2 linked regions of the Homo sapiens genome follow. The protein of the gene in region 1 purifies or fractionates together with the protein of each later gene. This does not show direct contact. Each region holds a gene or a part of one and is shown in the gene's direction. Other genes may lie near its edges.

What was found. The genes of interacting proteins can lie anywhere in the genome.
Region 2: the proteins of SLC35D4 (region 1) and FAAH purify together in Homo sapiens (affinity purification with mass spectrometry; one large-scale study listed by BioGRID and IntAct). This does not show direct contact.

Annotation. Positions count from the first base shown.
Region 1 is NC_000018.10:23,350,962-23,354,461, reverse strand, and holds part of SLC35D4 (UDP-N-acetylglucosamine transporter TMEM241), read left to right. Parts: intron 1-2,172; coding exon 2,173-2,266; intron 2,267-2,467; coding exon of another isoform or gene 2,468-2,569; intron 2,570-3,500. UniProt on the Homo sapiens protein: Golgi-localized UDP-N-acetylglucosamine (UDP-GlcNAc) transporter that transports UDP-N-acetylglucosamine into Golgi lumen.
Region 2 is NC_000001.11:46,404,317-46,407,816, forward strand, and holds part of FAAH (fatty-acid amide hydrolase 1), read left to right. Parts: intron 1-697; coding exon 698-832; intron 833-1,055; coding exon 1,056-1,189; intron 1,190-1,271; coding exon 1,272-1,478; intron 1,479-1,721; coding exon 1,722-1,762; intron 1,763-1,927; coding exon 1,928-2,052; intron 2,053-3,500. UniProt on the Homo sapiens protein: Catalyzes the hydrolysis of endogenous amidated lipids like the sleep-inducing lipid oleamide ((9Z)-octadecenamide), the endocannabinoid anandamide (N-(5Z,8Z,11Z,14Z-eicosatetraenoyl)-ethanolamine), as well as other fatty amides, to their corresponding fatty acids, thereby regulating the signaling functions of these molecules.

The DNA of each region.
Region 1 (3,500 bases):
TGCAAGCTCTGCCTGCCGGGTTCACCCATTCTCCTGCCTCAGCCTCCCGAGTAGCTGGGACTACAGGTGCCCGCCACCACATCAGGCTAATTTTCTTTTTTTTTTTTTTTTTTTTTGTATTTTTAGTAGAGACGGGGTTTCACCGTGTTAGCCAGGATGGTCTTGATCTCCTGACCTCGTGATCCGCCCGCCTCGGCCTCCCAAAATGCTGAGATTACAGGCTTGAGCCACCGCACCTGGCCATATCTCACTCTTTGTCTAGCTGGTCAAGAACACATTTCCATGAAGCTTCACGTCTTCCTCAGTTGTCCTGCCTCCAAATGCCAGGAAGAGTTTGGAGCTCCCTTTGCTATGGCTCTGGCCACACAGTGGCACTTTTGAAAATAGTTCCAGCGCAGGCAACTACATCTGTCCACTGCTGTGCCAGCGCCCTTGCTGGTCCAGAGATCTGAAGAGCCATGGAGACCTGGATTCTAATTGTACCTGTGCCCCAGTTTCATTGTTAATAAAGTGAGACTTTGGGGATAGGTAATCTTACTGTTCTAAAAGCCTCTGGTTTCCATTAAGATAGGATGAGGACTGCTATGATTATTTCTACTTTAAGGCAACTGAACCTGAGACAAAAAGGTGGGAAGGGGGATTTGGTTAAGGTTACGAGGGTCAGTAAGCACAGTGAGGAATAGAAATCCAGGCGCTGGGTGTGATTGGGTAGGCCTGCTGCTTACCCACGGGCCCTCTTTGCCTTTTGGGTGTGAGTAACTTGACATCTTAATCCATAGCTGTTCAGCCTCCCATGACTGCTGATGCAAATTGGAACAAACTTTGCAGGTCATTAGGGCCAAACAGGCTGAAATACACATGGGGAAACCTAATGCCTGTCTTTAGTCCTGCCCCAAGAATGTGGCTGTGAACTAGTCTAATCTAATGAAGTGAAGGTACACATTTCTGTGACATTTGGCCTTAGGTGTGTTCAATTAATTCAGTCTGCTTCCAATTCAACCTGACAAGCATTTAGTTAATGTGTACCGTAACTGAGGCACCATATTAGGCTCCGTTGAAAATACGAAGAGCAGCCCAAGATTGGGCTTTTCCTGCTCAGAGTTTATGATCAGTATTGGAGCTGCGCACCAGTGCCTGTATAAGGTCAGATGGAAGTGTGGCAGTCAAGGGTCTGGAGATGCAAATGAAGTACAACTCACAGGGCTTGCCTCTCTAGCTTGGAGTTACAACTGCAGTCATATCTCTTACTTTGCAATTTTCAAGTTCAAATAACAGTCACACTCAAACCACCACTTGCACATATTTGCATGAAGTCAGCCTTTCTCTCTCTCTCTCACATACACACACACACACACACACACACACACACACACACACACACACACTGTCTGTCTCACCTCTTCCCCAGTTGTCCTGCCTTCAAATGTCAGGAAGCATTTGGAGCTCCCTTTGCTTTGGCCTTGGCCACACAGGGCACTTTTGGAAATAGTTGCAGCACAGGCAACTACATCTCCATCCACTGCTGTGCCCTCGCCCTTGTTGGTCCACACTCCTGAATAGCCCCAAGATGCTGCCCCTTCCTCAGGTTCTCGAGTGGGGATCTTTCCATTCACACACATGTGTAGGCACCATTTCCAAAGCATACCTCCTATGGCAGGACAGCCTGGTTTGGGGGACTTCTGGCCTCAGCCATATGTGTCACTGAAGCCAGCCTTCCCCTTCAGATTCTTTTGAGCCTGGAGGCCAGTCCAGACTCTCTCTTCTCACATGGTGAGTTTCCCTTTGGAAGTCTTTTCCTGCCAGTTTATCTTGCTTGAAAAAAATTTAAGCTCTGCCTTGCCAAGCACCAAAACTCCAGAAGTTCTATGGGAAGGAACAAGAGGTGTTGTCCTCCACCTTTTTTTTCTTTCATGATTTAGCCAGAGGCCTCTGAAATTTCTTTGCACCATTCCTCTAATCAAAATTCTCCCACCATAGCTCCTTAGAAAAGCAGAGCTTAATGACTTTAAAATTTTTTTTATTTTCATCCAGAGATCACAGATCTAGAAAACACAGATGAGGTAGAGGTTGCATAATAATTTGAAATTGATTGGTAAAATGTAGCAGACACTAGTCAGCCATTGGCTAAGGGAAGACAAGCCTCACTAACAAGAGAATCTTTTCTCCTTCCAGTGGATTTTTGGGATTCTTTCTCATGTTCAGTACAGTGAAGCTAAAAAACCTTCTGGCCCCAGGGCAGTGTGCAGCCTGGATTTTCTTTGCTAAGGTAAGAGACAAGAGGGGTGGGAAATTCTCTCTCAAGAGCCTGTGTATCCAAAGATCTCAGAACCTGGGTAATGTGAAGTTGTTTGAGCTTCATGAGACCACTTCTAGGCGCTGTCCCTGAGCCTGATCCTTCCTTCATTCAGGTAACGATTTCTGAGGCCTGCTCATTTTATCAACATGGCATATTTCATCTTTCTTACAGTCCTGGAAGACAATCATGGATAGGCTCCTTATTTCCTTCCTGGAGGCTGTGCAGGTGTCCAGAGCTCAAGTGACTTACACAAGGGGACTCAGTCGATCCAAGGTGATAGAGAAAGGAAGATAGACAAATGGCCAGGTTGGGGCATTTCTATGAAACCTTAGAAAAGGGATTATTCTAAGAACAACCTCTGTGTATCCGAATGACTATGGGGGAAGCATAAGATAAAGTGGTGGGGGAACCACAAAGAAACAGAAGGAGCGGGGAAGTGGCTGTGGGATGGCCAATCTTAACTGAAACATGGTGGGGCCAACTTCTGTTGGCACGTTTCATTTCCTTAGTGCCTGTGAGGGAGGCAAGTTGTAGAGCTCTAGATGCTGCTTTCAAGGAGTAAGCCTCCTTAATTAATTAAATTTAATTTAATGAAATCATTATTTAACTTGGGCTTTTAGTCATCTTTGTGTTTTATGGGTTGAAGTTTCTCCAGAAAAAAAACCTCAAACATTTTGCTTTGAAAATAAGATTTTTAATGATATTTTCACCCCCATGCATTTTTTTGTTTTTGTTTTTGTTTTTGTTTTGTTTTGTTTTGAGACAGGGTCTTACTCTGTTGCCCAGACTGGAGTGCAGTGGCATGATCTCAACTCATTGCAACCTCTGCCTCCCAGGCTCAAGCGACCCTCCTGACTCAGCCTCCCAAGTAGCTGGGATTACAGGTGTGCGCCACCACACCCAGCTAATTTTTGTATTTTTAGTAAAGATGGAGTTTGACCATGTTGGCCAGGCTGTTCTCAAACTCCTGACCTCAAATGATCCACCCACCTCAGCCTCCCAAAGTGCTAGGATTACAGGTGTGAGCCACTGTGCTCGGTCCACATGGCCTATTTTTTAATAGCATTAATAATTCCAATTCTAGCAGAATGTAAAAAGTAGCTGAGATATTGATTTCTGGCATGACAGAGTGAGGAGGTTGATGAAACCTCTTCCCAAAAAACAGCTAGAAAGCTGGAAGAAAACTGTCAAAAACATCCATTTC
Region 2 (3,500 bases), on another chromosome or scaffold:
CCCAGGAGCAGGAATATTTACTGAAAGCTGCATCTCACTCTGCCCTCACCTTTCCTTCTGTAGGACCCTGTGTGGTGAGGTTTGAGCATTCTAGGCAGATTTCCACTATTAGCATGTTCTTCCCTTTTGTCAAGCTCCTACTCCACATGGCTTGATTATCAAATTCAAGATTTCCTGGGTAAGGGGAGGCTTGACTGGGCTACATGTGGGGAAGGCGTGGGGTTGAGGAGAGACTGCTGGGCTCCGGGAGGCAGGAGTCTGGTCTAGTCCTGCTCTGTGGTTGCCCTTCAGTGTGACCAGTGATGGGGCGCTGCCCCTGTCTGGTTTCTGTCTGCCTCACTGGCAGAGATGTGGCTTGGGGGAGGTGAGGGAGTGGCCAGTGGTCATCTTCCTCCCAGCTCACCCCCTACCTGGGGGGCACCTGAGGCCAGTATCTTGCTCCCTTGAGTGTCCCGGTTGTGCCCTGGTCCTGGTTGAAGGCCAGAGACAGCCAGGATGAGGCCTGGGCCAAATGTCCCTAGTGAGGCAGATGCTGAGCCCTAGGTCATCCTCTGTGCCCCAGGCTCTGGGCCATGTTGCTGGTTACCCCTCTCCCTGGGTATACTTTAAAAGGCCAGTTCTACATGATGTATATTTCACCACAATTTCTTAAAAAGGCCAGCCTCCTTTTATCTTATGTCTACTTCCCCTTCCTCAGGCCTGGGAAGTGAACAAAGGGACCAACTGTGTGACCTCCTATCTGGCTGACTGTGAGACTCAGCTGTCTCAGGCCCCAAGGCAGGGCCTGCTCTATGGCGTCCCTGTGAGCCTCAAGGAGTGCTTCACCTACAAGGTATGCTCTGCCTCAGCGCCAGGCCTCCATCGTCCCCTCCATCCCTGCCAGCCTGCTCTGCATCTTGGGTCATTTTGGGCCCTTAGAGGAGGTATCAGGTCCAGAGGCCTTCCGAGGGGACACTGGTATACCTGTTTTGGCCTGTGTGACAGTTGTTGGAGTGGACCCTTGGCTGCCCACGGGCCCTGACTCACTCCCTTCTGGTGCCCATCCCTCCTCCCAGGGCCAGGACTCCACGCTGGGCTTGAGCCTGAATGAAGGGGTGCCGGCGGAGTGCGACAGCGTAGTGGTGCATGTGCTGAAGCTGCAGGGTGCCGTGCCCTTCGTGCACACCAATGTTCCACAGTCCATGTTCAGGTTGGGTCTTGGGGTGGGGCGGGGCGGGGCAGGGGCACCGGTCCCAGCATGGCACGGGCTGACCCATTCTTGGCTCCTCCAGCTATGACTGCAGTAACCCCCTCTTTGGCCAGACCGTGAACCCATGGAAGTCCTCCAAAAGCCCAGGGGGCTCCTCAGGGGGTGAAGGGGCCCTCATCGGGTCTGGAGGCTCCCCCCTGGGCTTAGGCACTGATATCGGAGGCAGCATCCGCTTCCCCTCCTCCTTCTGCGGCATCTGCGGCCTCAAGCCCACAGGGAACCGCCTCAGGTAAGGTGGGTGGAGGGCGCTTCTGGGCCCCTCGCTGTGTGACCTTGGCCTAGCTTCCAACCTCTCTGGGCTCCAGGCGGGGATTCGGTCTCCGGGGTTTTGCTGGGAGGAAGCATTACAGTACCACTGGCCGGGCGTGGGTCCTAGTTTCCAAAGCGGTGAGTGTTCAGAGCTGCTCTGTGGGTGTGGGGATGGCGGCGGGTGGCCATTTCCTGTTTCCAGCATCTTATGTTTCTTATCCAGCAAGAGTGGCCTGAAGGGCTGTGTCTATGGACAGGAGGCAGGTGAGGTCCGTGGTGCTCTCAGTGCCCCGAGGAGGGTGGGGGTCGGCCTGACCCGCTTCCGCCCGTGCTTCTCAGGTGGCAGGGCAGTGTCTGGCCCCCAGGCTGCTCTAGGTCTGGGTTCCTCGCTCCTTGTCTGCTTACCTCCCTCACCTCTCTGCCCCACAGTGCGTCTCTCCGTGGGCCCCATGGCCCGGGACGTGGAGAGCCTGGCACTGTGCCTGCGAGCCCTGCTGTGTGAGGACATGTTCCGCTTGGACCCCACTGTGCCTCCCTTGCCCTTCAGAGAAGAGGTGAGCAGGGCTGGGTGGGCATGAATGTGGACCGCTGAACCCAGACAGCCACCCCAGGCCTTGTGGGCAGGCCTTGGAGCCCCTGTCTCCTGAGAACCGTCCCCCAGGCCTCTGAGGCCAGGGCGGGTTGCTCCTCCACAGACGGCCACCAGATGGAGCCCTTGCCTGCATTTGGAAATCCTCAGGCTTTTTTTTTTTTTCCTTTTCTTTCTTTCTTTTTTTTTTTTTTTTTGAGACTGAGTATCGCTCTGTCCCTCAGGCTGGAGTGCAGTGGCGCGATCTCGGCTCACTGCAAGCTCCGCCTCCCGGGTTCACGCCATTCTCCTGGGTTCACGCCATTCTCCTGCCTCAGCCTCCCGAGTAGCTGGGACTACAGGCGCCCGGCACCACGCCCGGCTAATTTTTTTTGTATTTTTAGTAGTAGAGACGGGGTTTCACCGTGTTATCCAGGATGGTCTGGATCTCCTGACCTCGTGATCCGCCCGCCTCGGCCTCCCAAAGTGCTGGGATTACAGGCTTGAGTTACCGCGCCGGCCGGAAATCCACAGGCTTTCAAAGGTGCCCAGCCTCAGCTGCTGGCACCAGGGATGCAGGAATCATTTCCCAGCCTGCTGACCTTCAGCAAACAGCAGCCTTTCTAACAGTATTCCTGTCCACATTTTGGGAGCAGCACGCCACGCTGCCTGCAGACCCCAGCTCATGTAGCCTGTTCCTGCCAGACTTGCTGCTACGTGAGCCAGGGTCTGCAAGCAGCGTGGTGTGCTGCTCCCCAAAATACCACCACAGCAGCCTGTTGCTGAGACAGGCTGGGCTTGTTGCTTTCTGTGGCGAGGCAGCACTGTCTTGCAAAGCCTTAGGATCATCTCAGAGGGCAGGAAGGGTGGGGAGATCTGCTGAGATTTTGAAGTCTGGTTTAAGGTGGATCTTTCAACATGGGGGTTGGTTAAGATTGGTTTAAGTTGGTTAAGATTGGTTAAGATCCTTAATCCCCATGTTAAGGATTGGTGGGCACAGCAGGGTGTGGATTTTGAGGCGAGAGGTGTCAACCGATGCTTCCTGTTGAAGAGTTGGAATGAATCGGAAGGTTATTTGTGTTATGTGTGTTATTTGGAGGAGGTGGGGGAGTGGCCAGTGGTCATCTTCCTCCCAGCTCATCCCCTACTGCGGGGCATCTGAGACCAGTATTTTGCTCTCTTGAGTGTTCTGGTTGTGCTCTGGTCCTGGTACTCTCTCTCTCTCTGTCTCTGTGTGCGTTGGGGTTGAAGGCCAGAAACAGCCAGGTTGAGGCTGGGGCCAGATGTCCCCAGTGAGGCAGGTGCTGGGCCCTAGGTCATCCTCTGTGCCCACTCCAACAGAGTGCAGGAGCTGTAAAGTTAGATTGGTGCAGACAGAGGAAGAGTGAAGTCACGTTAATGTAGACAGTAAGCTGTGTGACGTAAGCCCCGTTT